Homo sapiens: one gene and its partner. Each later gene encodes a partner of the first gene's protein in a complex. Each region holds a gene or a part of one and is shown on either strand. Other genes may lie near its edges.

The links.
Region 2: the proteins of MICALL1 (region 1) and EHD1 are in contact, whole or in part, in an NMR structure (PDB 2KSP), measured with the Homo sapiens proteins. Residues at the interface, in NP_203744.1 of Homo sapiens: Lys422, Tyr424, Asn425, Pro426, Phe427, Glu428, Glu429; in NP_001269373.1 of Homo sapiens: Gly464, Ala467, Lys468, Met471, Asn478, Leu481, Gly482, Trp485, Lys486, Lys492, Asp493, Gly494.

Annotation. Positions count from the first base shown.
Region 1 is NC_000022.11:37,932,587-37,946,981, forward strand, and holds the end of MICALL1 (MICAL-like protein 1), read left to right. Parts: coding exon 1-93; intron 94-211; coding exon 212-302; intron 303-452; coding exon 453-526; intron 527-4,493; coding exon 4,494-4,608; intron 4,609-5,159; coding exon 5,160-5,206; coding exon of another isoform or gene 5,207-5,233; intron 5,234-8,122; coding exon 8,123-8,244; 3' UTR 8,245-10,236; downstream 10,237-14,395. Other genes in the region: C22orf23 (UPF0193 protein EVG1), read right to left, coding at 11,729-11,931, 12,456-12,587. UniProt on the Homo sapiens protein: Lipid-binding protein with higher affinity for phosphatidic acid, a lipid enriched in recycling endosome membranes. On endosome membranes, acts as a downstream effector of Rab proteins recruiting cytosolic proteins to regulate membrane tubulation.
Region 2 is NC_000011.10:64,871,407-64,886,964, reverse strand, and holds the start of EHD1 (EH domain-containing protein 1), read left to right. Parts: upstream 1-8,343; 5' UTR 8,344-8,477; coding exon of another isoform or gene 8,478-8,500; coding exon 8,501-8,904; intron 8,905-12,446; coding exon 12,447-12,544; intron 12,545-15,558. UniProt on the Homo sapiens protein: ATP- and membrane-binding protein that controls membrane reorganization/tubulation upon ATP hydrolysis. In vitro causes vesiculation of endocytic membranes. Acts in early endocytic membrane fusion and membrane trafficking of recycling endosomes.

The DNA of each region.
Region 1 (14,395 bases):
TCCATGGAGAGATGGATACCATTGAGCGCCGGCTGGATGCCCTGGAGCACCGTGGGGTGCTGCTGGAGGAGAAGCTGCGTGGCGGCCTGAATGGTGCGGGAGCGGCTGGGAGGGCCTGCTGGGTGGGGCTGGGGGCAGGAGCCTCTATTCCCCGGGGAACTGAGCCAGGCATGGCAGCCAGCCCTGGCCTCAGTGGGTATCTGGCTTCCAGAGGGCCGTGAGGATGACATGCTGGTGGACTGGTTCAAGCTCATCCACGAGAAGCACCTACTGGTGCGGCGAGAGTCCGAGCTCATCTATGTGTGAGTCCCCCCGCCTGGGGCATCCCTCCCTGGAATCCGTAGAGCTTAGAATGGAGAACCCTTACCCTCTTCCCTCATCAGTAACAGCGCAGGGCAGGGCAGCCGGGGCTCGGGCAGAATTGTTAAGAGTCACCTTATTCCCACCCCTAGCTTCAAGCAGCAGAACCTGGAGCAGCGCCAGGCTGATGTCGAGTATGAGCTCCGGTGCCTCCTCAATAAGCCAGGTGAGTGCAGCCACTGGCACTCCCCTGGCACCTGCCCTGGGGCCTGGTGACACGGAGGAGTGGGGGAGCGGGCAGACAAAACCCCAGTAGGATGCACAGGCAGACTGGGGACAGGGCCAGAGGAGGAGGTGCGGGGCAGGGCTGTCTGGGTCACCCCCAAGGATGGGAGAGACTGTAACAGGCAGTAAGCTGGCTGGGGCTGTGGTAGGAGAAGGAACCGCACAGACAGTGTAGGGTGTGGACGTCCGAGGGACCAGGGATGACAGGCTCTCAGTGAATGAAGATCAGGCCCAGGACCAGCCCAGCCTGTTTTGTGCGTGGGTCAGACTGTTCCTTCTTCTGCCACTAACTTGCTGTGTGACCTTGGGCAGGATTCTTAGCCTCACTGAGCCTCAGTGGCTTCAGGTGTAAGATGGGAATGAAGGTCCCCACGTCCTCGGGTGTTCTTGGGACCAGGAGACAGTGGACGTGGACTCTGTACCCTCTGAAGGGCTGATGGCTGATGGTTACCATGTGGCCGAGTTGGGGTTTGGTGAGGAGGGCTCCTCACACGCCCTGTGACCGTGGAATGCAGTGAACCGCAGCTGCAGGCAGAGACCCCAGGACTATGGAGATTCCAGAGTTGGGAGCCAAAGCTTTTGACCACTTTCTTATGGCTCAGGCATGGTGCCAGCCCTGGGCAAGGGCCATCTTGACAGATGGGAAGTGGAGGGCCAGAGAGGTCAAGGGACTTGGCTGTTGGTGACGGGGCTGGGCTTCCATCCATGTCTCTGATCTGGGGCTGTCCCTGCACACACAGCCCCTCCAGACTGTGGGGATGGTGGCAGGGGAACTGTCTACTGACTGGGGAATTTGGGAGGCTGGAGTGTCCCAGGGGAAGCCACAGAATGTCCCAGGCTTCCACTGCCTTGTGTGAGTCACTCCCAACTCTGCAGGAGGCTGGGGCGTGGCCACCACTCAGAGCCACAGCGGCGCCCTGTGGCCAGAGCGGGCACGGCTCCTCTGCCTCCCTGGCTAGCCCGGCCCCAGGGCTTACTGTGGCTTTTCCAGCCCCCGTGTGGTGGCTGTGCGTCCCGGGCTTGTCAGCCTGTCCCGGATGTTGCTTTTGGAAGGTGAAGCTGGTGTATGAGGCTCCGAGTACAGTACACCATGAGGGCCATTGCTTGGGGGCATCAGGCTGCCAGGTTCAAATACCAGCTCCACCTTCACTGTGTGACACTGGTCAAAGATTTCATGTCCCTGAGTCTCAGTTTCCCCACGTGTAGACTGGGGACATAACTTACCCAGGCCCCAGATATGGAAAATGGCAAAGTGGGATTCAAACTTGGGTGGTGATTTGGAGGCCCTGCTCTGTCCCCAGAACCAGGTTGGGCCACCTGCTCCTCAATTTTGGCAAGGTGAGGCCATAGGGGAAAGGGGCAGTGGCTGAGGGGGCTTCAGGATATTTATTTATTTATTTTGGGGGGGGGTATTTATTTATTTATTATTATTATTTTTTTTTTGAGACAGAGTCTCACTCTGTCGCCCAGGCTGGAGTGCAGTGGCGCGATCTCGGCTCACTGCAAGCTCTGCCTCCCGGGTTCACGCCATTTTCCTGCCTGAGCCTCCCAAGTAACTGGGACTACAGGCGCCTGCCACCACGCCCGGCTAATTTTTTGTGTTTTTAGTAGAGACCAGGTTTCACCATGTTAGCCAGGATGGTCTCGATCTCCTGACCTTGTGATCCACCCACCTTAGCCTCCCAAAGTGCTGGGATTACAGGCATGAGCCACTGCGCCTGGCTCTATTTATTTATTTATTTTATTTTATTTATTTATTTATTTTTATTTTATTTTTTGAGATGGAGTCTCACTCTGTTGCCCAGGCTGGAGGGCAGTGGCACAATCTCGGCTCACTGCAAGCTCCGCCTCCCCAGGTTGACACCATTCTCCTGCCTCAGCCTCCCTAGTAGCTGGGACTACAGGCACCTGCCACCCCGCCCGGCTAATTGTTTGTATTTTTAGTAGAGACGGGGTTTCACCATGTTAGCCAGGATGGTCTCGATCTCCTGACCTCGTGATCCACCCGCCTCCGCCTCCCAAAGTGCTAGGATTACAGGCGTGAGCCACCGCGCCAAGCCCTGGCCCTATTTGTTATTATTATTATTTTATTTTATTTTATTTTTTTGAGTCAGAGTCTCGCTCTGTCGCCTAGGCTGGAGTGCAGTGGCACGATCTTGGCTTACTGCACGCTCCGCCTCCTGGGTTTACGCCATTCTCCTGCCTCAGCCTCCCGTGTAGCTGGGACTACAGGCGCCCGCCACCACACCCGGCTAATTTTTGTATTTTTAGTAGAGACAAGGTTTCATCGTGTTAGCCAGGATGGTCTTGATCTCCTGACCTCGTGATCCGCCCACCTCGGCCTCCCAAAGTGCTGGGATTACAGGCGTGAGCCACCGCACCCGGCCTATTATTTTTTTGAGATGGAGTGTCACTGTGACATCCAGGCTGAAGTGCAATGGCGTGAACTCAGCTCACTGCAACCTCCGCCTCCCAGGTTCAAGCGATTTTCCTGCCTCAGCCTCCCCAGTAGCTGGGATTACAGGCGCCCACCACCACGCTTGGCTAAGGATATTTACTTTTTTTTTTTTTTTTTTGAGACAGAGTCTCACTCTGTTGCCCAGGCTGGAGTGCAGTGGCGTGATCTGAGCTCACTGCAACCTCCACCTCCCAGGTTCAAGCAATTCTCCTGCCTCAGCCTCCCTAGTAGCTGGGATTTCAGGTGTGTGCCACCACACCCCGCTAATTTTTGTATTTTTAGTAGAGACGAGGTTTCACCATTTGGCCAGGCTGGTCTCGAACTCCTGACCTCTGGTGATCCACCTGCCTCGGCCTCCCAAAGTGCTGGGATTACAGGAGTGAGCCACCGGGCCCGGCCTAGGATATTTATTTGAAGCCAGGGAAGCCTGTGGCGGTAGATGTTGTGGAGGGAAGGCCAAGTGTGGGCACTCATCCCTGGAGCCTGCAGGCTGGGGGAGGGGGAAATACTAGGGCCCCAGTGGGCCCCTGGGGGTGGTCCTGTGGGTTGGCTGGGGCCTTGAGAGGAAAGGAGGCAGGAGGGGCAGCAGGTGTGCCCAGCTTCAGGGGAGCCTCCTGCTGGGCTCCCTGCCCCCAGCATCCCCTCTAGTCTACCTTCCTCCACAGCCTTGGATAAATGTCCCAGTATGTCACTTGGGTTGTGTTGCTTCTCCTGCTGGAGGAGCCCTGGGGTTCCCTGTTGTCTCCTCGCCCCTGCCCCACTCTGTCCCTCCTGAATCTTGCCTCCCGCCAGAAGCCACCTAGTGAACATTTGTTGAATGGATGAATGAACATGAGCATGAGACCCTTGGTGCTGCCCTGTTCTTGCAGTAGGTGCTGTGCTGGCCCTGCTGGGGCCCCTTGCAGGGCTCTTTGGTAGGCAGCCTGGTGTCCTTGGTCTCTTCTGTCACAACTTTCTTTTCCCTAAGAACTTGTAGGCCCTGGCCGGGCGCGGTGGCTCACGCCTGTAATCCCAGCACTTTGGGAGGCTGAGACGGGTGGATCACGAGGTCAGGAGATCGAGACCATCCTGGCCAACATGGTGAAACCCTGTCTCTACTAAAAATATAAAAAATTAGCTGAGCGTGGTGGCAGGTGCCTGTAGTCCCAGCTACTCGGGAGGCTGAGGCAGGAGAATGGCGTGAACCCGGGAGGCGGAGCCTGCAGTGAGCCAAGATCACGCCACTGCACTCCAGCCTGGGCGACAGAGTGAGACTCCGTCTCAAAAAAAAAAACAAAAAAAAAAGAACTTGTAAGCCCCACCTATCGGGGCCCTTCCTTTCTGCGCTTAGTTTCTTGCATGGTATTTAGCATGGGGCTGGCCTGCCGCACTTAGGCAGTGGCTCCTGGTGGCCTGGGGAGGAAGAGGGCTTTCCTACCACTCATGCCCCCTAACTTTTCTCCCTGGGCAGAAAAGGACTGGACGGAGGAGGACCGGGCCCGGGAGAAGGTGCTGATGCAGGAGCTTGTGACCCTCATTGAGCAGCGCAACGCTATCATCAACTGCCTGGATGAGGACCGGCAGAGGTGACATGGCCAGGGGTGGGGGGTCCTGGGGGCAGGGCCAGAGCAGGTCAGGCTCTGGGCCTCATGGGTGGGGCAGCTCCCTGGAGAGCCAAAGACACAGTCCACGCCTCAGGCCAGGCCAGCCCTGCCCTCCTACCAGCGATCCCAGTGCACCGTTGCTCAGCCCTGTGTGGACAGAGAGGGCATCTGCTCCTTCCTCCCGTAGGACTCTCAGCTGCCGCTGCTTTTTTTTTTTTTTTTTTTTTTGAGACAGCGTTTCACTCTTGTTGCCCAGGCTGGAGTGCAATGGCATAACCTCGGCTCACTACAACCTCTGTCTCCCAGGTTCAAGCGATTCTCCTACCTCTGCCTCCCGAGTAGCTGGGATTACAGGCATGAGCCACCACACCCAGCTACTTTTTGTATTTTTAGTAGAGATGGGGTTTCACCATGTTGGCTAGGCTGATCTCGAACTCCTGACTTCAGGTGATCCACCCACCTTGGCCTCCCAAAGTGCTGGGATTACAGGTGTGAGCCACCACGCCCAGCTTAACTGCTGCTGCTTATTTCAGGGAGGAAGAGGAAGACAAGATGTTGGAAGCCATGATCAAGAAGAAAGGTGAGGCCCTTGCTGGGGATGAGGCTGGTGAGCACTTGAACTTCGGCATTGGGGTTGGAAGGGAGGGACTGGTTGAAGGGAGGGTTGGAGTGGGCACTACCAGGATGGCTGTGCACAAACTCCGCAGCCTCTGTTGTGCAGAGAGGGCTGTGTGTAGCAAGAGAGGCCAGCATACAGCCAGGAAGGCTGTGGCTTAGGCTTGGAGGGTAGCCGTGGGATGCCCTGATGCCTACAGAGACGACTGTGGTATATGGGAGGCATCTTCCCAGGGTGGATTTGCCCTCAGCTGTGCATTCCCCCTTGAGATCTGCAGCTGGTTTTGTTGGAGTCCGTGGGCCCAAATAGCAGTGCTTCCTGGGGACCAAGTGGTGCTTGAAACAGTTAAAAGAGTACTGGACAGGAGATCAAGACCATCAGGGCTAACACGGTGAAACCCCGTCTCTACTAAAAATACAAGAAATTAGTCAGGCGTGGTGGCGAGAGCTTGTAGTCCCAGCTACTCGGGAGGCTGGGGCAGGAGAATGGTGTGAACCCGGGAGGTGGAGCTTGCAGTGAGCCGAGATCACGCCAGTGCACTCCAGCCTGGGTGACAGAGCGAGACTCAGTCTCAAAAAAAAAAAAAAAAAAAGTACTGGACTGTAAGTCAAAGGATTTTTTTTCTTTTCTTTTTTTTTTTTTTGAGACAGAGTCCCACTCTGTTGTTTAGGCTGGAGTGCAGTGGTGTGATTTTGGCTTACTGCAATCTCTGCCTCCTAGGTTCAAGCAATTCTCCTGTCTCAGCCTCCTGAGTTGCTGGGACTACAGGCGCATGCCATCACACCCAGCTAATTTTTTTTTTTTTTTTTTTGAGACAGAGTCTTGCTTTTGTCACCCAGGCTGGAGTGCAGTGGTACGATCTCAGCTCACTCAACCTCCGCCTCCCAAGTTCAAGCAATTCTGCTTCAGCTTCCTCAGTAGCTGGGATTAGCTGCCACCACACCCGGCTAATTTTTGTACTTTTAGTAGAGATGGGGTTTCGCCATGTTGGCCAGGCTAGTCTTGAACTCCTGACCTCAAGTGATCCGCTCGCCTCGGCCTCCCAAAGTGCTGGGATTATAGGTGTGAGCCACTGCGCCCGGCCCTGGCTAATTTTTTTGTATTTTTAGTAGAAACGGGGTTTCATCATGTTGACCAGGCTGGTCTCGAACTCCTGGCCTCAAGCGATCTGCCCACCTCGGCCTCCCAAAATGCTGGGATTACAGGCGTGAGCCAGTGTTCCTGGCCAGGATTTGGGTTTTGGTCTTGGTTTTACCAGTACCTCACTTTGTGGCCTTGTGGTTAGGTCTTGACTCAGGCCAAGTCAGACTACTTGAGTTCTAGTCCCAGCTCTGGCACTTATGAGCTGGGTGACTTTGAGCTGGCCACTCTACCACTCTGGTCTCATTCTTCATATCTGCAGAATGCGGGTGAAAATGGCACCCCCTCACAGGTGTGTGCTGGGATTACTGAGATAATGTGTAAAACTTAGCTGAGGGCCCTGGCCCTACAAAGGGCTCAGTTGGTATTAGTCAATTTCAAAGGCCTACATTTTCCTTGTCTATAAAATTAGGGGCTCAGACAGATGATTTTGAAGGTTTCTCTTGCTCTGACAGCGTTTGTGTTGTAAGTAACAGAGCTGTGGGCACCAGCCTGGGTGAATCCAGCCTTTTAAAGATAAATGGGGGCCAGGCGCGGTGGCTCACGCCTGTAATGCCAGCACTTTGGGAGGCCGAGGCCGGCAGATCACGAGGTCAGGTGTTCGAGACCAGCCTGGCCAGCATGGTGAAACCCTGTCTCTACTAAAAATACAAAAATTAGCCGCGCATGGCAGCGCTTGCGTGTAATCCCAGCTACTCGGGAGGCTGAGGCAGAAGAATCGCCTGAACCCAGGTGGCAGAGGTTGCAGTGAGCCGAGATCGTGCCACTGCATTCCAGCCTGGGCGACAGCACAAGTCTCCGTCTCAAAAAAAAAAAAAAAAAAAAAAAAGATAAGTGGGGCCAGGCACGGTGGCTCACGCCTGTAATCCCAGCACTTTAGGAGGCTGAGGCGGGCTCATCGCCTGAGGTCAGAAGTTTGAGATCAGCCTGGCCCAACATGGTGTAACCCCGTCTCTACTAAAAATACAAAAATTAGCTGGGTGTGGTGGCACACTTCTGTAATCTCAGCTACTTGGGAGGCTAAGGCAGGAGAATTTCTTGAACCAGGAGGCAGAGTTTGCAGTGAGCTGAGACCGCACCATTGCACTCCAGCCTGGGCGACAGAGACTCTGTCTCAAAAAAAAGAAAAAGAAAAAGATAAATGGATGCCATGCTTCAGAATTCCTGGATTCTAGGCCGAGTGTGGTGGCTCATGCCTGTAATCCTAGCAGTTTGGGAGGCTGAGGCGGGGGGGATCACGAGGTCAGGAGATCGAGAGCATTCTGGCTAACAGTGAAACCCCATCTCTACTAAAAATACAAAAATTAGCCGGGGCGTGGTGGCACCTGCCTGTAGTCCCAGCTACTCGGGAGGCTGAGGCAGGAGAATCGCCTGAACCCGGGAGGCGGAGGTTGCAGTGGGCCAAGATCGCGTCATTGCACTCCAGCCTGGGCGACAAAGCGACTCAGTCTCAAAAAAAAAAAGAATTCCCGGATTCAGCAGAGCTCTTACATGTGCTGACCATCTTGATCTTTCCCCAAACACTGGAGGTGGGGAGGGGGAGGATGGGCCCCATCCTCTAGGTGAAGAGACAGAGGCTGGGAAAGGTGAGTGTCTTGTCCCTCCCAGGCTCCACACAGGAAGTGGTGGGGCTGGGCTGAGCCCTGCTGCCCATGCCCAGGCCTGTGTCACTGGGTCTAGCCTGCCCTGGATGTACCCCTCTTCTCCACTTTATTAAGTGCTCCCCTCTCTGTGCTGCAGAGTTCCAGAGGGAGGCTGAACCTGAGGGCAAGAAGAAGGGGAAGTTCAAGACCATGAAGATGTTGAAACTGCTAGGAAACAAACGTGATGCCAAGAGCAAGTCCCCCAGAGACAAGAGCTAACAGCACGAGAAGCCAGTTGGGGACTGCCCCCTCCTGGAGCAGCTCCTGGGCTGTGCTCTGTTTGAAGGGGGCGCCCTGCTCCCCTCAGATCAGTCAGGAGGAAGATGACTAAGGGGAGGGATCCTCTGGGTGATGGCCTCTTCCTCCTCAGGGACCTCTGACTGCTCTGGGCCAAAGAATCTCTTGTTTCTTCTCCGAGCCCCAGGCAGCGGTGATTCAGCCCTGCCCAACCTGATTCTGATGACTGCGGATGCTGTGACGGACCCAAGGGGCAAATAGGGTCCCAGGGTCCAGGGAGGGGCGCCTGCTGAGCACTTCCGCCCCTCACCCTGCCCAGCCCCTGCCATGAGCTCTGGGCTGGGTCTCCGCCTCCAGGGTTCTGCTCTTCCAGGCAGGCCAGCAAGTGGCGCTGGGCCACACTGGCTTCTTCCTGCCCCATCCCTGGCTCTGAGTCTCTGTCTTCCTGTCCTGTGCAGGCGCCCTTGGATCTCAGTTTCCCTCACTCAGGAACTCTGTTTCTGAAGTCTTCAGTTAAGTTTGAGTTTATGACTGAGTGGCCTGTACTGTCAGACGTGAATGGGCCTGACGGGCAAATCCATCCCTCTCTCCCTCACAGTTCCAGGAGCGGCTTCCCTCGTCTCCCCTTACTCCACAGGGAGCCTCCCTTGCCAGGACCAGGGCTGCGACGGCCATGCTGGGGCAGGTGAGTGCTCTGTTAGCTGCTCCCAGTGCTGTCCCCAGGCTGCAGTTCTGGTCCCTGGTTGTCAGGTAGGAAGGGTGCACTTGAAGCAGGTGCTCATCTCGGTTCCTTAACGTTTATAGTCTGACCCCTCACTTAGGCTTTCCTCTGCCACCCCGGTCCAGGGAAGAGGCTCGCTCCCGCCCATGGTCATCACTGGTCTGTCTGCTCTGTTGTCTGTTCTTTCCCTGACTCCCTCCCACCGAAGGCCTGATGGCTACTCACCCCTCTGGGATGGCTATGGGAGAGGAGGAGTGATGGGGACCGCCACCTTTTCTGCAGGAAATGTGCCCAGCAGCTCTTGGTCAAAGCACTGTTGCTATAAGCTATCTCTGGGATGCCTCTAGGCCCCCTTCCCTCTACACACCTCTGGGAAAAGATTACACTGTATTAACTCTCGAGGAGTTTCCTCACCAATAAACAGACAACCTCAACTGCCAGTGCCCTGCAGCCTCGGGCCACAGCGGCAGCCTTGTTTGCCTTCCCACCTGCCTCTGCCACACCTGGTGGCTGAACATCTCTGGTCGCCCAGAGGCCATGTTGGGGCCATCCTCCAAGAGGGATCTCTGCCCTCACCGCCTGCCACTGGGCAGGATCCCTTTCCTCTGCAGGGAGAGGTGGCTCCTCGGCCATGCAGCCCCTGGCAGGCTCCTTCTAAACATGCCTGTTGACCTGGAGCTGGCGCCACCAACTCCAGGGCCTTTCCAGGGCCAGACAGGTAACACGCATGAACCCGAGTGACAGCTCTGACGGGCTGTTTCGGTGTCAGGAGACAAAGCTGGCAGGGGCAGGGGTGAACTGGAGGCAAGTCAAGTCACCTGTGGCCTGTGGGGCTGAATGTGGGCCCGGTGTTGCCAGATCCTTTGTCATAAGAAGCTAGAAATCCAGATTTTATGTGTGTGTAATTTGTAAATGCTGAAAGCTAGCCTGAATTTTTTTTTTTTTTTTTTGAGACAGAGTCTCGCTCTGTCGCCCAGGCTGGAGTGCAGTGGCGCGATCTCAGCTCACTGCAAGCTCCGCCTCCTGGGTTCACGCCATCCTCCTGCCTCGGCCTCCTGAGCAGCTGGGACTACAGGCGCATGCTACGACGCCTGGCTAATTTTTTGTATTTTTAGTAGAGACGGGGTTTCACCGTGTTAACCAGGATGGTCTCGATCTCCTGACCTTGTGATCCACCCACCTTGGCCTCCCAAAGTGCTGGGATTACAGGCGTGAGCCACCACGCCCGGCCACTAGCCTGAATTTCAATCAAGGGTTGGCTGATACTGTGTGTCCAGGGTGGACTGGATTTGTCCTGGGGGGTTCTCTGGTTTGCTGCCTCCTGACCACATGATGGGGCCTTCGAGGTCGAGGACAACTGTTCCCATTAGATTGCACCCTCTGCCCTCAGGTTCTTGAGGGTGTGTGGACACAGAGGCTTTCCATGGGATGTCCCTGAGCCGGCCCTTGATTGGGGCCTCACCATTTACAGGGCCGTTTTATTCTGCAAACCGAAACTTGGGTCATGTGACCTGATGGGATTATGGGACTCCCTCCAGGTGCCCGAGACAAGGTTGATATTTCCAAAATATTTTGGTGATTTAGTGGGACAAGCAAATGACAGAATACCGGAGAAGGCAGGGATCGTGGGTGTCAGGAGCCAGAGGGGAGGGGGACAGATGTGCTGTGTACAGGACAAGGTGTCAGGTGACTCCTTCCCAGCAGGGCCTCGCAGATGCACAAGCACGGAGCTGGTGGGTTTTGCCCAAGAAAGGTCACGCGGCACATGCAGGGATTGGAACTCCCAGGCCAGGGCTCTAGGTCGCTCCCACCTTTTCATGTTTCTTTCTGTGGCCATGGGTATAGTGGAAAGACATAAAGCTAAAGCCAACTTTTAATCCTGAATGCACTGCTTGCCAGGTAAATGCCCTTGGTTGTGGTATCTTGTTGAGACTTAGTTTTCACAGAGGGATAATGAACCGTTGCAGAGGTTTATTGAGATCATTAACAGAGTGGAATTCAGCACCCGCCACAGCAGCCAGCCATGGGGTGCCCAAGAGGTTGGTTCCCGTTGCCACTTGAAATATGCAAACAGGTAGCTAGAAACCATCTGGGCTTGACAAAGTCTAATGCCTTGAACAAATAAGCTTATCCCTCTGAAAACAAAATGGTGCTTGTAATGACCCACGTTAAATATGTTTTATTGGCCAGTTAATCATTGTGGTTGAATACTTGCCTAAGGCGGTAAGAAATCAAATAAGTAAATCCTAAAACAGGAAGAAAGGAATCATATTCATTCCTGAATTCAGAAAACTAAATGAACAGGCCACAGGTCAGAAGTGGTGGGAAGCAGGCCCAGTGGATACCTTTAGACACATGTCCTAGTAGGGATGCTCGGGCTTTGCTTCTCTGCGGACGGGGCTGTGAGTCTCAGAGGCTCCATCTGCATTCCGGGGCAGGGGCTAGGCTGCTGAGTATGCCTTGGGGTACTGCAGGGCAGTGCTATGCCACCACCTGACGTGGCAGAAGGCTGGTAGGATGGGCTGGCCTGAGGATGGCCCTGCCTGGCAGAGGAGTGGACTCCAGTGGTCGAGCTTGGGCTACCCTGCCCGTCTCTGGAGACAGATTAAGTGGTGGCAAGACCCTTCCTAAGTTCCTCACTCCTTCTGTGGTCAATGTCTTCCATTTCCCGGAGTTTCTGCAAAGGGCATCAGGGAAAGCAGGTGTATCAGGGCTAGGAACCTGAGGAGCTGTCACAGCAGTGAGCTAGAGCCTGACCCCTGAACCCTGCCACAGCAGACCCTGTATTTCCATTCGCACTTGGCGCTGGGCCCTTCCCCTCCCCACTTTCCTGGTTGTTTCTCCTACCTGGGAGATTTCAGCAAGGATGATTCCTCGGTACTGTTTGCCCTGTCCCAGGGCCTCCATGTCAGCCAGGAATTCTTTCCTCTCCTGGATTTCCTTCACCACTGGACAGAGGAGAGGGCTGTCAGGTTCCCATGAGGGATGCAGGCAGCGGGTTGCCTCTCTTGAGGAGAGGAAGTGGTTCTATTGTCAAATAGTGTTTCTAGGCCGGGCGCGGTGGCTCACGCCTATAATCCCAGCACTTTGGGAGGCCAAGGCAGGTGGATCACGAGGTCAGGAGTTCGAGACCAGCCTGACCAACATGGTGAAACCCCGTGTCTACTAAAAATACAAAAATTAGCCAGGCATGGTGGCGGGCGCTGGTAATCCCAGCTACTCAGGTGGCTGAGGCAGGAGGGATTGCTTGAACCTGGGAAGTGGAGGCTGCAGTGAGCCCAGATCACGCCACTGCACTCTAGCCTGGGCAATAAGAGCAAGACTGTCTCAAAATAAATAAATAAATAAATAAATAGTGTTTCTCACTTGTTGGCCCTTGGCCCTCAGGGATCCCCTGACTGCTCCATCCAATTCTGGGCCCCCTCCTCACATTACCCCCACCCCCAGCATGACTGGTCCGTCGGAGTCTTACGCTCTTCAAATCGGTCTAGCTCAGGGGCTGGAGCCTTCTGTCGTGCAGGAGGGGCCTTTCTTTTCCGTTCCTCCATGTCCTTCCCTGTGGCAAAGATATTTTGGAGTCTTTGTTTCTCCTTCTCCAAATCCCCTGTAGGGCCAAAAAGAAATGGCCTAGTTAGGCTGTAAAGGGTGCCCTTATTCATGGTCTGTGTTCCCAAGTGCACGTGCTTGCTGCAGGGTGCCTGGTCATGCAGACAGGGCTTCCGTACACCTGCTGCTACCCTGGGTTCTCCTGAGCAATACTGTACTGTCAAGAGAGGCAGGAAGAGGTGGAAAGAACCAAGAAAAGAGTTTGGGTATGGTCTGTAATTCCAACACTTTGGGAGGCTGAGGTGGGAGGATTGCTTAGGACCAGGAGTTCAAGACCAGCCTAATGGATGTAGTGAGACCCCCATCTCTTTTTTTCTTCTTTTTTTTTTTTTTTTTTGAGACAAGGTCTGACTCTGTCGCCCAGACTGGAGTGCAGTGATACAATTTCGGCTCACTGCAACCTCTCGGGCTCAAGTCATCCTCCCACCTCAGCCTCCCGAGTAGCTGGGACTACAGGTGGACGTCATCGTGCCCAGCTAATTTTTGTATTTTTTTTTTTTTAGTAGAGATGGAGTTTTGCCATGTTGCCCAGGCTGGTCTCAAACACATGAGCTCAAACGATCTGCCAGCCTCGGCCTCCCAAAGTGCTGGAATTACAGGCATGAGCCATCACGCCTGACCGATATCCTATCTCTAAAAAAAAAAAAAAAAAAAAAGTCCAGGCACGGTGGCTCACACCTGTAATCCTAGCACTTTGGGAGGCTGAGGCAGGCAAATCATGAGGTCAGGAGTTCGAGACCAGCCCAGCCAACATGGTGAAACCCCATCTCTACTAAAAATACAAAAAATTAGCTGGGCATGGGCCGGGCGCGGTAGCTCATGCCTGTAATCCCAGCACTTTGGGAGGCCGAGGTGGGCGGATCACGAGGTCAGGAGATCAAGACCATCCTGGCTAACACGGTGAGACCCCACCTCTACTAAAAATACAAAAAAATTAGCCCGGCGTGATGGCAGGTGCCTGTAGTCCCAGCTACTCGGGAGGCTGAGGCAGGAGAATGGCGTGAACCTGGGAGGTGGAGCTTGCAGTGAGCCGAGATGGTGCCACTGCACTCCAGCCTGGGCGACAGAGCAAGACTCAGTCTCAAAAAAAAAAAAAATTAGCTGGGCAGGGCATGGTGATGGTGCCTGTAATCCTAGCTACTTGGGAGGCTGAGGCATGAGAATTGCCTGAACCCAGGAGGTGGAGGTTGCAGTGAGCCGAGATCGTGCCACTGTACTCCAGCCTGGGTGACAGCGCGAGACTCCGTCTCAAAAAAAGCTGGGTGTGGGGAACACCTGTGGTCCCAGCTATTCTGGAGACTGAGGCAGGAGGATTGCTTGAGCTCAGGAGTTCTGGCTGCAGTGAGCTATGATCATGCCACTGTATTACAGAATGGGTGACAGAATGAGAGCGACACTGTCTCAAAAAAAAAAAAAAAAAAAGGCCGGGAGCGGTCGTTTGTGCCTGTAATCCCAACACTTTGGGAGGCCAGGGTGGGCGGATCACTTGAGGCCAGGAGTTCAAGACCAGCCTGGCCAACATGGTGAATCCCCATCTCTACTAAAAAAATTAACTGGACATGGTGGTGGACACTTGTAATCCCAGCTACTCAGGAGGCTGACACATGAGAATTGCTTGAACCCGGGAGGCGGAGGTTACAGTGAGCCGAGATAGCACCACTGCACTCCAACCTGGGCACAGAGTAAGGCTCTGTCTTTAAAAAAAAAAAAAAAAAAAAAGTTTTGTCAAAACTTAGCAGAGCAAGGCTAAGAAAGCTCAGGAACCTGGGGCCTCGGCGATGCCTGTAGTGGCAACTTATGTATAGG
Region 2 (15,558 bases), on another chromosome or scaffold:
GAAAAGTTGCAAGAAAAGTACGAACAACATCCATATACTGTTTATTTTGATTCATTGACAGTTAACACTTTGCAATTATATATATATACACATATTTATATATATACATATATATACACATATTTATATATATACATATATATACACATATTTATATATATACATATATATACACATATTTATATATATATACATATATATATATACACATATTTATATATATATACATATATATACACATATTTATATATATATATACATATATATACATATTTATATATATATATATACACATATATATATATTTTTTGAGACGGAGTTTCTCTCTTATTGCCCAGGCTGGAGTGCAATAGCGCTCACTGCAACCTCCGCCTCCCAGGTTCAAGCAATTCTCCTGCCTCAGCCTCCCGAGTAGCTGGGATTACAGGCATGCGCCACCACACCTGGCTAATTTTTGTATTTTTAGTAGAGACGGGGTTTCTCCATGTTGGTCAGGGTGTTCTCGAACTCCCGACCTCAGGTGATCTGCCCGCCTCGGCCTCCCAAAGTGCTGGGATTACAGGCATGAGCCACCATACCCGGCCTGCAATAATATTTGCTCCCTTTTCTCTCTCTCTCTCTGTCTGGCACCCACATACACACATACACACACACATATTTTCTGAACCACGGGAGAGTAAGTTACATAAGTCCTAGCCCTTTACCCTTAAATATTTCAACATGTATCTCCTAAGAAAAATGACATTTCTTACGCAACCACAAGACAAGTACCAAATTCAGGCCTGATGACAGTGATGCAATGCTATTATCTAACGTACAGTCCACTTTCAAATGTCTCTGATTGTCCCAGTCTGCCAGGACCACGCTTCACATCTGGTGTCAGCTCTCCTCAGTCTTCTTTAATCCAGAACCATCCTCAGCCTTTCTTTGTTTTTCAAGACCTTGATATTTTTGAAGAGTCTAGATCAGTTGTTTTGTAGAGTGTTTCTCATCTTTTTCTCTCCATTTCCCCCCAATTAAACAAGTCAAGTACATCCATTATATACATTTGGACAACATAGAAAAGTAAATAAAAATTGCCCCAGTTCCTACGATGCAGGGATAACCCCGTAGACACTTCCTGTAATCACTGAGTAAGCTGACTCACTTGTTCTACGCACTCTGTGCACATGAACTCATGTCATCCTAGGAGGCGGGTGCTTTTGTTATCTCTTGAGTGCCTTGCTAAAGATCATATGGTCTGTAGGATTTGATCCTGAACAGTCTGCTCCAAAGCCCATGCACTTGGCCTTTATGCTATACTGCTTCTCAATAATGGCCAGCCACGTGCGTGTGGCGTGCGCGCGCTCATCAGGATGCCTCAGCTTCTGCCCTATTGGCATTTCGGGCAGGGTAATTCTCTGCTGTGGGAGTGCCCTGTGTGTTGTAGGATGGTCAGCAGCAGCCTTGTCCTCTGCCTAGTAGATGCCAGCAACAATCCCCAAAATAATCATACCAAGAATGTCCCCGGGGGAGCAAAATCACACCCAGCTGAGAATCACTGTGTGGGGTGTGTGTGTGTATGTGTGTGTGTGTAGCCAGGTGATGCTGTATTCCCTTCTGAAATCTATCCCAGTGATTGGTACTCCATGGTCACTTTTGGGTCCTTCCATTTTCTTCTCTGGTCCCATGTCTAGTGGCTGCCAGGTGTTGCCTGTGAAGGGACTCGTGGATCGACAAAAAGACAAATCTATTGCAGTAGCTACCTTCTACTGCTACACAACAAAGTGCCACAAACTTTGTGGTTTAGAACCGCCCCCATTTATGAGCTCCTGGTTCTGTAGGTTGGAAGTCTGGGCCCAGCATGACTGAGTTCTGTTCTCAGAGTGTCAGATGCTGAAGGAAGGTGGCAGCCAGGCTGCCCTATCACCGGGAGGCAGGGGAAGGAATCTGTCTCCAAGCTCATTCTTGTTGGCAGAATCCGGTTCCTTGCATCCATAGGACTGAGGTCCCCGTTTCCTTGCTGGTGGTCTGCTGGGGCCCCTCTCAGCTCCTAGAGGTCACCCACATTCCTTTCCACATGGTGTCCCCCAGGCTGGAGTGCAGTAGCACAATCATGGCTCGAAGCAGCCTCAACCTCCCTGGCTCAGGTGATCCTCCCACCTCAGCCTCCTGAGTAGCCGGGACTACAGGTGCATGCCACCACACCCAGCTAATATTTTGTATTTTGGGTAGAGATGGGATTTTGCCATGTTACCCAGGCTAGTCTTGAACTCCTGGGCTCAAGTGACCCACCCCCTCAGTCTCCTAAAGTGCTGGGATCACAGGTGTAAGCCACTGTCCAGCCAGCTCTGCTTTCAGAGGGCTCAGTGAGCTGGGGGGCCCACTGGGATTATCTCCCTTTGTACAGTGGACTGCACCATCTAACACCGCATGTCATGGAGTAAGTCACCAGATCCGCATTCCCAGCATTACACTGGATATGTACACCAGGGGTGGGGGATCTTGCAGACATCCTGAAATTCTGCTTAATGATGACCAAAGGGCAAGAGAGGTGTTTCTGGGACAGGACATGGAGCCAAGGGGCAGGGGACCAGGTTGGGTGAGCAGGAGACGGAGGCCTGACCCCACCTCTGAGAGGGTCCCACTATATTCCTGCCCTCGGGGACACCCCAACATGTACCTCTAGGAGCAAGCATGGTGCCTGGGCAGACGTGGGCCTCAGGGGAGGGTTCTGGTCTCCAGTCTCCTTGCAGATGGAGCGTCACCATGTTCTGTACTTAAGGGCACAGTAAAGAAGCTGCAGGTGAGAGGAATGTGGCAGCTGGGCCACAGGACGGGGAGGGAGACTGAGTGTCGGCAGACAGGCGGGCTGGGGGACCACCATGTACCACCCCAAGTGACCTACAAAGAGACTTTAATTTGGGGGGATGGAGGAGGGAGGTGTTCGCCCAGCAGAGGGGACAGGAGGGTGGCCTTGGGCACGATGTTTGACTCCTGAGGTGTGGGAGTGAGGAGCTGGGCTTGTTGAAGATGGGCTGGGCTCTGTGCCCTGGTGGCTGAGTGTGACACAGAGTTGGGGACAGAATTACCCTCCAGCCCCCCAGCCTGTGAGCCCATGGTGAGGCTCAGGGCCACAGCAGGGCAAGGCCAAGGCAAGGGAGAGGCAGCTGGAGCAGAACTTGGGCAGGCTCGTTCTTGCACACACGAGACACACTTCAGAGCCCCCGGAAATGCAGAGGGGCCGTGTGCACGGCAGCAGTCTGCACTCATACAAGGGAGGCTAAGACCATGCACCTCACTTGTACTCTCAGGCTGCTGAGGCTGGGGGACAATGGGGTTACACTCTCCATTTCATTAGTGTAGGGCAAGGGGGACCCCAGCACCCCACAAGGGACCCCCTAATGTTGTCACCACAGAAGGCGATTGCTTATGTGCCAAATAATAAGCCATTTCCTGTGGAGTCAGGCAAAGGCCTGGGCCCTCCAATAAGTTTAGGGCAAACCCTGCACCCTGCACTCAGCGGCAGCCCCAGCCTCATCAGCCCCAGCAAGGCAGGGCCAGAAGCTGCAGGGACTGAGACACACACACAGAAAACTGGCAGGTGAACTAGAGCTTTTACTGAAAGTGCTCAGAGACCTATAAGTCTCAGCTCTGCAAAGCACTGTGCAGTTATATGTGTACATCATCCTGATAAATGTGTAAGCCTGTCCCCCAGGCTGCAGAGCAGCAAAGGGGCTAGGAAGGGCTGGTGAGCTTCAGGGCAGAGATTCACTTCAGCCTGCATCTGGGGAAGAGGCTCTTGAAACCCTCTTTCTCTGCTTTTCCACCTGCCCGTCCTTGCAACTTCAAGTGGCTGGAGTGTGGAAAGGGCAGTGTTAAGATTCAGAAGGCCCTGGCCAGGCGTGGTGGCTCACACTTGTAATTCCAGCACTCTGGGAGGCCGAGGCAGGCAGATCACAAGGTCAGGAGATCAAGACCATCCTGGCTAACATGGTGAAACCCCATCTCTACTAAAAATAGAAAAAATTAGCCGACGGGCATGGTGGTACACGCCTGTAGTCCCAGCTACTCGGGAGGCTGAGGCAGGAGAATCACTTGAACCCGGGAGGTGGAGGTTGCAGTGAGCCAAGATCACGCCACTGCACTCCAGCCTGGGCAACAGAGGGAGACTCCCTCTCAAAAAAAAAAGACTCCGAAGGCCCAGATTCTCATTCAGTCTGGGCTACTTCGAGCAGTCACTGGACATCCCGGGCCTCAGGCTCTTTCTCACTGGAATTTGAAAGCAGCTAAGATTCTGACACGGTCACCTCCAAATTGGGCCATGTTCTGGCTGCCAGATGCCTTCAGAGCCCTCTGGGGCCCAGCAATCTCCCCAGAGCCATCACCCAAGGGCCACAGCTGCTGCAAGAGAAAGGCCTCATGGTGTGGAGAGGACACTCTTCTTGCCAGTGTGGGAGACCCGGCATTCAAAAGAACAGTCCTCCTCAGTTCCTCACCTTGTGTCGGGAAAACTGATTTGTTGCCCAAATCTCATGACTGTGAGAACAAAAATCTGTGCTGATATGCAAACTCTGTCAGTGGAAAGAATGAACCACTCCTCATCCCAGGGAGAAACCTATGTTTTGGTTTTTCTCAGCTCGATTTTTCTGCCATATTTGGAGAAAAACTCCTTAAAAAAAAAATATCGACTGGGTGCGGTGGCTCATGCCTGTAATCCCAGCATTTTGGGAGGCTGAGGTGGGTGTATTACTTGAGGTCAGGGGTTCGAGACCAGCCTGACCAACATGTATTTTTAGTAGTCTCTACTAAAAATACAAAAAATTAGCCAGGCATGGTGGCAGGCGCCTGTAATCCCACCTACTTGGGAGGCTAAGGCAGGATAATCACTTGAACCCAGGAGGTGGAGGTTGCAGTGAGCTGAGATCGCACCATTGCACTCCAGCTTGGGTGACACAGAGTGAGACTCTGTCTCAAAAAAAAAAAAACACTCTCAAACATAGTTTATTATATAGGTGAATCCTGGTCCCTGTGATGGGCTTATTGGTACGATTTCTGGTAGCAAGCATAGGTACCAGGGCCTCCAACGTTTTTGGATTTGCAGCAACGGGGGTCAGCTACTGACAGGGTCCAGTCATGCTGGATGAGGATGCCTCTGGTCCTTTTGGAAGCCTCATCCATTTATTTCCGGTAATAGGCCACTAAGGCTTTGGAGATGGACTGATGTTGATAGCATAAATCTGGGTCACATGACCACCACCCTTCACACAAACATGCGTGTGCATGTCAGCAAATTGCTCCTTGCCCAGAGGCAGAACTAGGAACTAGTTCCAGCAGCTTGAATTGCAGCGCTCGGCTCCATCATCTCCAGGGGCCATCCATTCACCTTGATGAGGCCACTGCCATGTTTGCAGTGGATTGCACGGACTGCAGCTGGCCCTTGGATGGCATAGCCAAGAGCACAGATAAGAGCTCCTCACTGCACGGCACCGCAAGCGGAAAAGGCACCTCTCTTTTTTTTTTTTTTTTTGAGATGGAGTCTCCTTCTGTTGCCCAGGTTAGAATGCAGTGGTGCGATCTTGGCTCACTGCAACCTCCACCTCACGGGTTCAAGCGATTCTCCTGCCTCAGCCTCCTCAGTAGCTGGGATTACAGGCACACGCCACCATACCTGGCTAATTTTTGTATTTTTAGTAGAGACGGGGTTTTGTGATATTGGCCAGGGTGGTCTTGATCTCAGGTGATCTGCTTGCATCGGCCTCCCAAAGTGCTGGGATTACAGACATGAGCTACTGCACCTGGCCTTTTTTTTTTAAGTTGTCTCTAGGGACCTTGTAGATGTTTTCCTAGATCAGGCCATGACAGGACCAAGCAGACCACTTAGAGGGGAGGTGAGGCCCCTTTCTGCTGGATGAGGGCGTTTCTGAGGAGAGCTAGGGGGTACCTCAAGGCCCTGGGTTTGCAGGGAATGGATTTATTAACTGAAGAATAAAACACTGGGAGTGGGGGATGGCACAGTTTCTGAGATAAAAGAAAAATACTTGAACCCTCCATCAATCTGCCATGGGCTCAGGCAGACAGGCAGAAAGTGAAACAGCGGAGAAACCAAAAGTGAAAGGGTGCATTCACATTTTATACAACTTTCCCACCAAACAAACTGCCCTACTCAGAAAACACAAAAGAAAAAAAAATTAGGACATTTTCGGTGTGGGGCATGACAAGATAAGGAAGCTGCCTGGAAGCTGGGTGCCAACTCCATGAAATTGGGGGAAACTAATTGCTGGTCACGTGGGCCTCACCAGGGTGACAGAGATCCCTTCTTTCAGTCCTTTAAGATCTTTGGAGAAAGTCAAGTGGCCATACATAACGACAGGGTCTGGGTTTTGTTTATAAATAACCCAGGAACATTTTGTTGTTTTCAGTTTTCTAGGGCTGGGTTTTCCCAGCACACAGGGCTCTGGGGAGATTTGAAAACCATGGCGCGTCAATGAGAATGCTGCCGGGGCGCCAGTTTGGAGCAGCCTCATTGAGACGACTGAACAACTACTTCATTCAGGATCCTCAGCCCTGGGCCCTTCCCTAGATCAACCCAGAAACTGCATCTCCGGGGTGGATCCCTAACAGTGCTGAGTAGGAGGCAAACACTGTGGCTTCTAAGGCTGACCCGGGAAGTCTGGACTAGGCCCGCCGGAGGCTCCTCGTCACCAATTGGCATGCAGCCTCTGGTGACAGCTCTGCCTAGGAGCCTCAGTATCTTCTTTTGAGAATAACACCAAAAAAAAAAAAAAAAAAAAAAAAGGGGGGGGGCAGTAGCTTGTGTGCTTTACTATGATGAAAAGAATCAAATCAAAGCACTAAGGGGCGTAAGATTGCAGGCAGGGTTGGAATTACTTATCCGCTCTCCAATGGTTAGGGAGCAAGAGGGGAGGGCAAGGGAACTATCTATTCCCTCGGAAGGGATCTTACAAGCGGTAGGCGAACAAACCTCCCATCGTGTCCTCTCTAGATTCCACCACTCAGTTCCCCTGAGATATCCCCCGTTCTCAGATTTGAGTTCCTGCCTCTTCCTCTTAGCCTACCAGCCCAAGTTATCCCCTGATACAGGCCCCTAGCCCTCCAGGCTTCCACATCTCCCAGAAGCGAGGAAGTTGGACCTGAGGCTTTCAAAGTCGCAGGTTCAATTCAGATCTCTTTAAGAGCCCCCAGGGTCCTGCTACCACAGGTTGGTGTCTTGATACTGGTTACATAACAATCAGTCCCCAAAGCTCTGACATCACCCACTGAAGATTCTCACCAGCCTGGACAGCCAAAGGGGTCTGTGTGTGGCCGGGGAGGATGGCGGGGGAGTGAGCCCCATGGAACAGCCAGGAACTGGTAAGGGGAGGTAGGGCACAGATCCCAGTAAATGATGGTAAATGGTGGTGACCCCGAGAGGAAAGTGGAAGTATTTGGGTTTTTAAACTTCCCCCTAAATTCCCACAAGATTTCATTGTTGCCCCCACACTTCCCCTCTTCCCCACATAGGGAATTTCCGATTTCACTTCCCAATACGCAAGTGGCCAGAGAGCCTCAACTTCCTCCTCATGCCCTCCCTGCCTTGCCCCAGCTATAGCCTTTGTGGGGAAGCCTTCTCTTCTCCCGCGCGAGTCCGGTGTCACCCATGTCCTCCCTCGCTTGCGTCCCTCTCCCATTCCCACCCCGTCGGCCTGAGGGGAGGTCAGGCCTCTCGCTGCCCATTTTTCTTTCCCCAGTCACCAGCCCGCCCCGGATTCTCTACTCCCTCAGCTTGCTCTGCTACCACTTTCCTGTCTCTCCCTCTCCCAAAGCAGATAAAAGATGAGGGGACAAAGACAGTGTGTGTCTGGGAAGCTGGGCTGAGAGGAGGAGGTGCCGCCGCCTGGGGGTACTCCGATGCTTCCGGGGATTCCGAGCCAGCTGGAGGACCGCACGTGGCGAACGGCGGGCGCGGCGCGTAGTCAGGGAACCAGGGTGCCTGACTGGGTGTCTCGTGGAGCCATCCCGCGGGGGTGTGGGGGGGCCACGGTGCCGGAAGGCGCGCGGCCCAGAGGCCGTCTCCGCCGAACGCCCGCTCCTCGCCTTCCTAACCGCAGCACTTTCGCGAGCCTCCCTACGAGGGGCGGGGCGAAACAGGTGCGGTTGCCACGGCACCCGGACCACAGCCTCGCGAGATTTGGAATCAGCCAATGGGGGCGGGGTAGGGGAAGACGTGGCACCAGTCGGAGGGGCGGGGCTGGGAGGGGCTCCTCCCTACCGCCCCCAATTCCGCCCTGCCCCCGCCGCGGCGGCGCTAGCCGCCACTGAGGGACCGACCCTATAAAGGCCGCTCCGCGAGGGGTGCGCAGCATTCGGCAGAGGGCGCTTCGACGGGCTGGGCTGTGCGCCTGCGCAGTGTGGGTCGCTCCCGATTCCCTGCCCCGGCCGGCCCCGCCTCGGCTCCGCACCCTCGCCCCGCTCTCAGCCGCCGCTCTGCCCCGCAGCAGCCAGCCCCGTGTCCGGCAGTATGTTCAGCTGGGTCAGCAAGGATGCCCGCCGCAAGAAGGAGCCGGAGCTCTTCCAGACGGTGGCTGAGGGGCTGCGGCAGCTGTACGCGCAGAAGCTGCTACCCCTGGAGGAGCACTACCGCTTCCACGAGTTCCACTCGCCCGCGCTGGAGGACGCTGACTTCGACAACAAGCCTATGGTGCTCCTCGTGGGGCAGTACAGCACGGGCAAGACCACCTTCATCCGACACCTGATCGAGCAGGACTTCCCGGGGATGCGCATCGGGCCCGAGCCCACCACCGACTCCTTCATCGCCGTCATGCACGGCCCCACTGAGGGCGTGGTGCCGGGCAACGCGCTCGTGGTGGACCCGCGGCGCCCCTTCCGCAAGCTCAACGCGTTTGGCAACGCTTTCCTCAACAGGTACCCACCCATCACTCCAGGGGGCGGGGGGCGCGTCCGGGGCACACCCCTCACTCGGAGCCTGACCCTCCCGTGGCTGTCGCCCCGCCGTCCTTTGTCTCCGAGGCCCCAGTGAGACCCTCAGTGACCACTCCCTGGTCCAAGGGCCCTGCCCCTTCCCAGAGTAAACCCACTGGGGGTCTAAGAGTGGGCGTTGTCGGCTCCCCCAGCTTCTGTCCTCCCCAGAATCTTCCAGGGTAACCACCAAGCCCTCCTGCAGATCCCAGCCCCACTCCCCTCAGCAGCAGGGCCGCAGTAGGAAGCTGAGCCATTCCTGCGCTCCTTTTCTTGGTCTCCACCTCCGTCCCGCAGGCTGGATGCACCTAATTCACGGAAATCAACCCTCCCCTCCCTGTCTTCTTAAGTGTCAATAGCAAAACACAATGAAACTTTTAGCCATTCCCTTCTCTGGTGCGGTGTGGGTCTGCTCTGCCTCCCCTGGGACGGTGGTTTTGTGTAGGAGGGAGGAGGAGGATCGGCTGTGGCTTGCTGACTTTGGGGCAGCCCCTTGGAGGCAGGGGACAGTTGAGGTTCGAACACTTCTCCCAATGGCAGCTCTCAAGAGGTCAGTGCTGCCCTGAGGGGTTTCAGGAAGCAGGATGAGGTGGTGGCAGTGGGAGCCCTGCAATGAGATTCTGGCCCTAAGCCCTTCTGTGCACTGAGGGACAGAATCTGAGGTTCCTTCACCCACTTGGACCTCACTTTTCCAGTTAAGTGGCCTCTGCACGCGAGGAGAGTGAGCTCCAGGACTCTGCCTGTCTCAGTGCTGTGAATGAAACACAGTGCTCCCGCCCCTCAAGGAGTGCAATGCCCAAGCTCACTTTTCTCCAGAGAAACTCGAGACATGCCCGTCCCAACCCCCAGGCGACATACCAAAGTACTTCACAGACCCTGTCCTCCCTGCCACCCCACGTTCACGGACTCCACATGCCTTTCATAATTCTGCACCAGCGAAGAGCCTCTGAAGGAATCTTTGAATCCTGCCTTCCAGGTCCCCGCCCTGCACGGTCACATTCCTTTCCAGACGCCATCCAGCTGTGCAGGGCAGCTTGCCCTAGAGCCAAGCTGGTGGCCAGGCCTACTCCAGGCACAGAGCTGACCTTCAGCAGGGTCTGTTCACTTCCAGGCATTTCAGCCCGCCCTCCTGTTTTACGGCTGTTGATGTTTGTCTGTCAAGGCCAGGTTGAGTGCAGCCCTTTGGGCTAAGGGTCCTGAAGAGGCGGAGTCCTCTTCACTTTCCTTGTGAGGGCACACCTTTTTTGAAAGGAGAGACATGGCACAGGACCAGTTTTCTGAATTTGGAAGCCTAGAGTTTCAGAGCTGGAAGGATCTTAGACATCATCTTGGCAGCCCCCACCTGACTGGTTCAGGAAACCGAGGTTCAGAGGGTCTGGCTGATGTGTGGAAGTCACCCATTAGGTCAGCCAGCACTGACTGCCTGGCTTTTGCACAGCCAGTTACTGCTTTCTGCTGCTTCTACCCGAAAAAGAGCAATTCGAGATTGCTTTGTCCGAGACCGGTGCTTTGATGACATTGGTGCCACAGGATCTGAGAGGTGGCACACGTTTATTTCCTTCTTGCTGCCACCTCATCTCCAGAGGATCCCTGATCACTGATGGCCCTGCCGAAAGGGCCCTATCAGCCCACGCTGAGGCCCAGAGCTGTGCCAGGATGTGTAGTGTGGGGAGTGAGCCCGGCGAGGAGGGTGCAACAAAGGAGGCTTTTCTCTGGCTGATACAGCCTCTCCCAGCTGAGTCTTGAAGAGACTCATTGAGTCGTGAACTTGACTTGCCGGCCTTCTCCCCCTATGTGGCTGCTCTAAGAATAAAATCAGCTGGAGCAGACCAAGGCAAGGTGCAGTCAGGGTGTCTTAAGAGTGTCTTGCAAAAACTTATTGCATAACTGGGACTGCCACTTGTGCGAGATGAAACCTGTGCGTTCTTGGTGAGATGGAATCGGAGGCATCTTTGCTGCTTCCCCTTTCTTGTTTTCTGCCATATACCCTGGGCTCTGCAGAGCAACTGGTTTCTGGGTCCTATAGATATTAACTCACTTTCTGGGCTCATTTATGAGGCATTTTTATGTATGTGATTTCCCAGAGCCAATTCTGCTTCCCATCCTTCTATTCTGTAATCATCTCTCCAGCGCCTCCTGTCCCCAGCAGGAAGGCCAGGACTGGCCTTCATGCATTGCTACTGGCACTGGCGAGAGTGAGGCCCACGTTTTGCTCGCCCTGCAGGTCAGCTGGTCTTGCTCCACTGCCTTGCAGAGCACCCCTTGCCCTGGCCAGCTGCCCTCTGCCCGTGGGCCCCTGGTCACTGGGGGATGGGGCCAAAGGGAGAAGCTGATCGGCTCAGAGTCCTCCCGTCTGTTGGAAAGGCAGCTTCAAGTCTGTGTCCTACAGATAATGGGTCAGTCTTTTCTTTGCTCTCACTACCTTTTTCAGAGAAGTTTTTTGTTTGTTTTTTTGAGACAGAGTCTCGCTCTGTTGCACAGGCTGGAGTGCAGTGGCGCACAATTTCGGCTCACTGCAAGCTCCACCTCCTGGGTTCGAGCAATTCTCCTGCCTCAGCCTGCCGAGTAGCTGGGACTACAGGCGCGTGCCACCATGCCCAGCTAATTTTTCTATTTTGGGTAGAGATGGAGTTTCACCATGTTGGCCAGGCTGGTCGTGAACTCCTGACCTCAAGTGATCTGCCTGCCTTGGCCTCCCAAAGTACTAGGATTACAGGCGTGAGCCACCACGCCTGGCCTTTCAGAGAACTTTTCAAAGGAGCTTTTTCTGCGTCCAGTGAAGGATCCCTGCTCTCAACTGAGACTGCCCCTTGCCTTTCTGGGCTGTTCTAAGCTTAGTGTGAAACTCAGATATGCGTGGCTGAGCCCTGGCCCGCAAGTCGCCAGCCTCTCCACGGCTTTGTTCTTCCTCAGCCTGCTCGGACTTTCAGAGAATGGCGCGTCTGTGCTTCTCCGTCCCACCGTCTACCAGCCTGTGTGGTCCCCAGCTTTTGCCAGCCGTCCATTTCAATTCCCTCACCCAAGCGGCTGGTTGAAAGGGCAGGGCTGGCCCTAGCAGCAGTAGGAAGCGGCCAGCTCTCTTCAGTGTGGAGATTTAGCCAAGTGCTGGAGGATTCTGAGATGGGATTTCAGCGCCCCAGCGTGACCTTCTGCTTCCCCTCCGAACTGAATGGTGACCTAGGCTTGCACAGTTTTCACTAACAAGTCAGCAGCTTGAAAGTTGACCTCTCAAACTCTAGGGGAAAAGTGTGTGAGGAAGTGCTGATTTGGGTCAGTTTGAGCCTGCTGGTTGCATTCCCAGTTGAGAAAGTCCATACGATTTGCCGGCCACCCCGGGAAACTAAGACGATAGAAAACCACCTGTCAGTTCCCCGCTGCTGGAGAGGAAGCCAGAGATGGAGCGAAGGAGTACAGAGAGCCCTTTGTTGTGTCCGGAGCAGTGATGACTGTGTCTTGACGCCTCTCTTCTGGCTCTTGCTCTCATGTAGGTTCATGTGTGCCCAGCTGCCCAACCCCGTCCTGGACAGCATCAGCATCATCGACACCCCCGGGATCCTGTCTGGAGAGAAGCAGCGGATCAGCAGAGGTAAACAGCTGTGACCACAGCTCGGGCTGCTGGTGTTGTCACACATCCTTCTCTCTAAGATCTGCAACTTGGTTCAGATGCTGCCCTTGAGATTTCTCCTTTTTTTTTTTTTTTTTTTTGACGGAGTCTTACTCTGTCACCCAGGCTGGAGTGCAGTGGCGCGATCTCAGCTCACTGCAACCTCTGCCTCCTGGGTTCAAGCGATTCTCCTGCCTCAGCCTCCTGAGTAGCTGGGACTACGGGCATGTGCCACCACGCCCGGCTAATTTTTGTATTTTTCGTAGAGATGGGGTTTCACTATATTGGCCAGGCTGGTCTCGAACTCCTGACCTCATGATCTGCCCGCCTTGGCCTCCCAAAGTGCTGGGATTACAGGCGTGAGCCGCCACACCTGGCTGCCCTCGAGATTTCTTCCAGTCTCAGCCTTTCTAAAAAAAAAAATGTGGCCGGGCACGGTGGCTCACACTTGTAATCCCAGCACTTTGGGAGGCCGAGGTGGGCGGATCACGAGGTCAGGAGATTGAGACCATCCTGGCTAACACAGTGAAACCCCATCTCTACTAAAAAATAGAAAAAATTAGCTGGGCGTGTTGGTGGGCGCCTGTAGTCCCAGCTACTCGGGAGGCTGAGGCAGGAGAATAGCGTGAACCCAGGAGGTAGAGCTTGCAGTGAGCCGAGATCGCGCCACTGCACTGCAGGCTGGGCGACAGCGAGACTCCGTCTCAGAAAAAAAAAAAAAAGTGTCCGAGTAAGAACCCATTTTACATCAGCCTCCCATCTCCACAGTGCTCTGTGCACTGAGAGGGCGGGAGCTGCTTTCTTTCTTGGCTCCCTGGGCCTAGGCAATGGGAGCAGCCATGGTGAGACCACAGCCAATCTTATGTGGCTGTCATGCTTTTGAACCCCTGGGGCATGCTGGAAACAACAGGATCAGAATCGGGCCATGCTGTGAGGGTGCAGGAAGCATTGCTGACTCTGAACAAGCCCCTGGTCCCCAGAGCTTATTAGCTTTAGTCTGTGTTTAACAGCCTTTGCCCCCCAAAGCCATATACATTCCTCACACGTCCAGCAGGACTGAGAGAGAGCCAAGCAAAAGGAGAAGCTGGTAGAAATTCATGAAACGGGCTGGTGGAAATTTGCTTACATTTGCTTAGAGGTTGACAGCAGCCTCCCTGGCTGAGGCCTTCTTGCTATGCAGTAGTGCACCGTGCCCATTCCAATTGTGTAAACTCCTGCCTAGATTCTGCCAAGCTCTTTTGAAGATCTGGTTCAGGATGAGCCTGAACTGGGTCCTCCATCTGTCACTGCCCCTTTTTCACAGACGGGTGGGGCGCTTTGGGGCCTGATGCTTTCTGGGAGGAGCTTGAGGGTAGGCTGGTACCTGGCAGGTGAGGAGTGGAGTCTACAGCTCCAAATGTGAAAATGAAATAAGATCAAACTCAAAGAGGGGTTGAGGACAAGTGAGCAAGTTTGTTGATGATTAACTTGCAGATCCTTCCCGTGTCCCTTACCCTCTGGACTGGCCTTTGCTGGGTGAGCCTTGCAGTCAAAGCCGGCAGCTAGGATTTGGGGTGCACATGTCTCTCTGCTAGGGCTGTGAGGGCATGGGGACTCTGTTCTTGGAGCTGAGAAACCTTGCTTCTCTTTCCTTCCAGCCTTGCGGGCCTTGCCCGTGTGGGACTGCATCAGAGCGTACTGAAATCACTGGCCCTCATCTGGTTTCAGAGCTGCCAGTTAAGCTGTTAGATTCTCCCACCCCTGGTGACAGTGATGCACCTAGGAGTTAAGGGAGTAGATTTGGAGACCCCTTTAAAAAAAAAAAAAAGCGAGGGCTAGTATTTTTATTTCTTACTGCTATTGTTGTTCCAACCTAGTTTTAGTAAATGCCGGATAAGCAAAAGCCCTGTCATTTGCCAAAGCAAGGTCAGAAAATCTGATTAAGTTACTCTTTTATTTTTTTGAGACAGAGTGTCGCTCTATCGCCCAGGCTGGAGTGCAGTGGCATGATCTCGGTTCACTACAACCTCCTCCTCCCTGGTTCAAGCGATCCTCCCACCTTAGCCTCCTGAGTAGCTGGGATTACAGGTGCATGCCACCACGCCTGGCTAATTTTTATATTTTTAGTAGATATGGGGTTTCGCCATGTTGGCCAGGCTGGTCTTGAACTCCTGACCTCAGGTGATCTGCCCGCTTCGGCCTCTCAAAGCATCATCACAGCCTTGAACTCCTGGGCTCAAGTGATCCTTCCACCTTAGTCTCCCGAGTAGCTGGGCCCACAGGCGCGGGCCATCATGCTCGGCTGGGGTTGTATGTCTTGTGTTGCTTGCCTTGGCCCCTGCCCTCTGAGATGCTCCCTCCCCACCTCCCACTCCCTCTGCTTCCTTTCCCTGGTAGGAAAGAGGCAGGCAGAGGTGTCTACACTGGCTGTCTCTGGGACAAGCACCAAAGTGTATGCTCCATATCAGTGGATCTGCAGACACAGCATGGCGTTTTGATTGGGAGCAAGGGGTGGACGTAGGTGTTGCCTTGTGGTCCCTGCCCTGGAGTTGCCTGTGCAGACAACAGGTTGGAGGAACAAGCCAGCAGGACATGAGGCTGCTGTCAGTGTGCTGCCCTGCTCTGCCTGTGTGGCCTCCCTCTCCCCTCCAGGTGCAAAGTGTGGCCCCTCTGCATCCCTGAGAGGCCAGGCTCCCCTATATCCACAGAAGGTCATCTCTACCCATTATGGGCAGGAAGGAGCCGGTGGCTGAAAGAGAAGCACATCACGCTGATTGGAGGAGGGGTTTCCTGCTGTGAAGTAGCAGAAGATCAAACCGATTTTACTAGACCATTTCTTTTCCTCCATAGCCCTAGAGGCCTTGGTTTAGATGTGTTTTACTAAAAGTTACCTGGTTAGGGTTTGAATGATGGTGTTTTATTGTCAGGAGAAAGACCATCGCTCAGTACCTCTTGGAGGTGCTGGGTGTAAACTCCAGGATGAGCCCCGCTAGGTGTACACAGGAGGAGTGGATTTC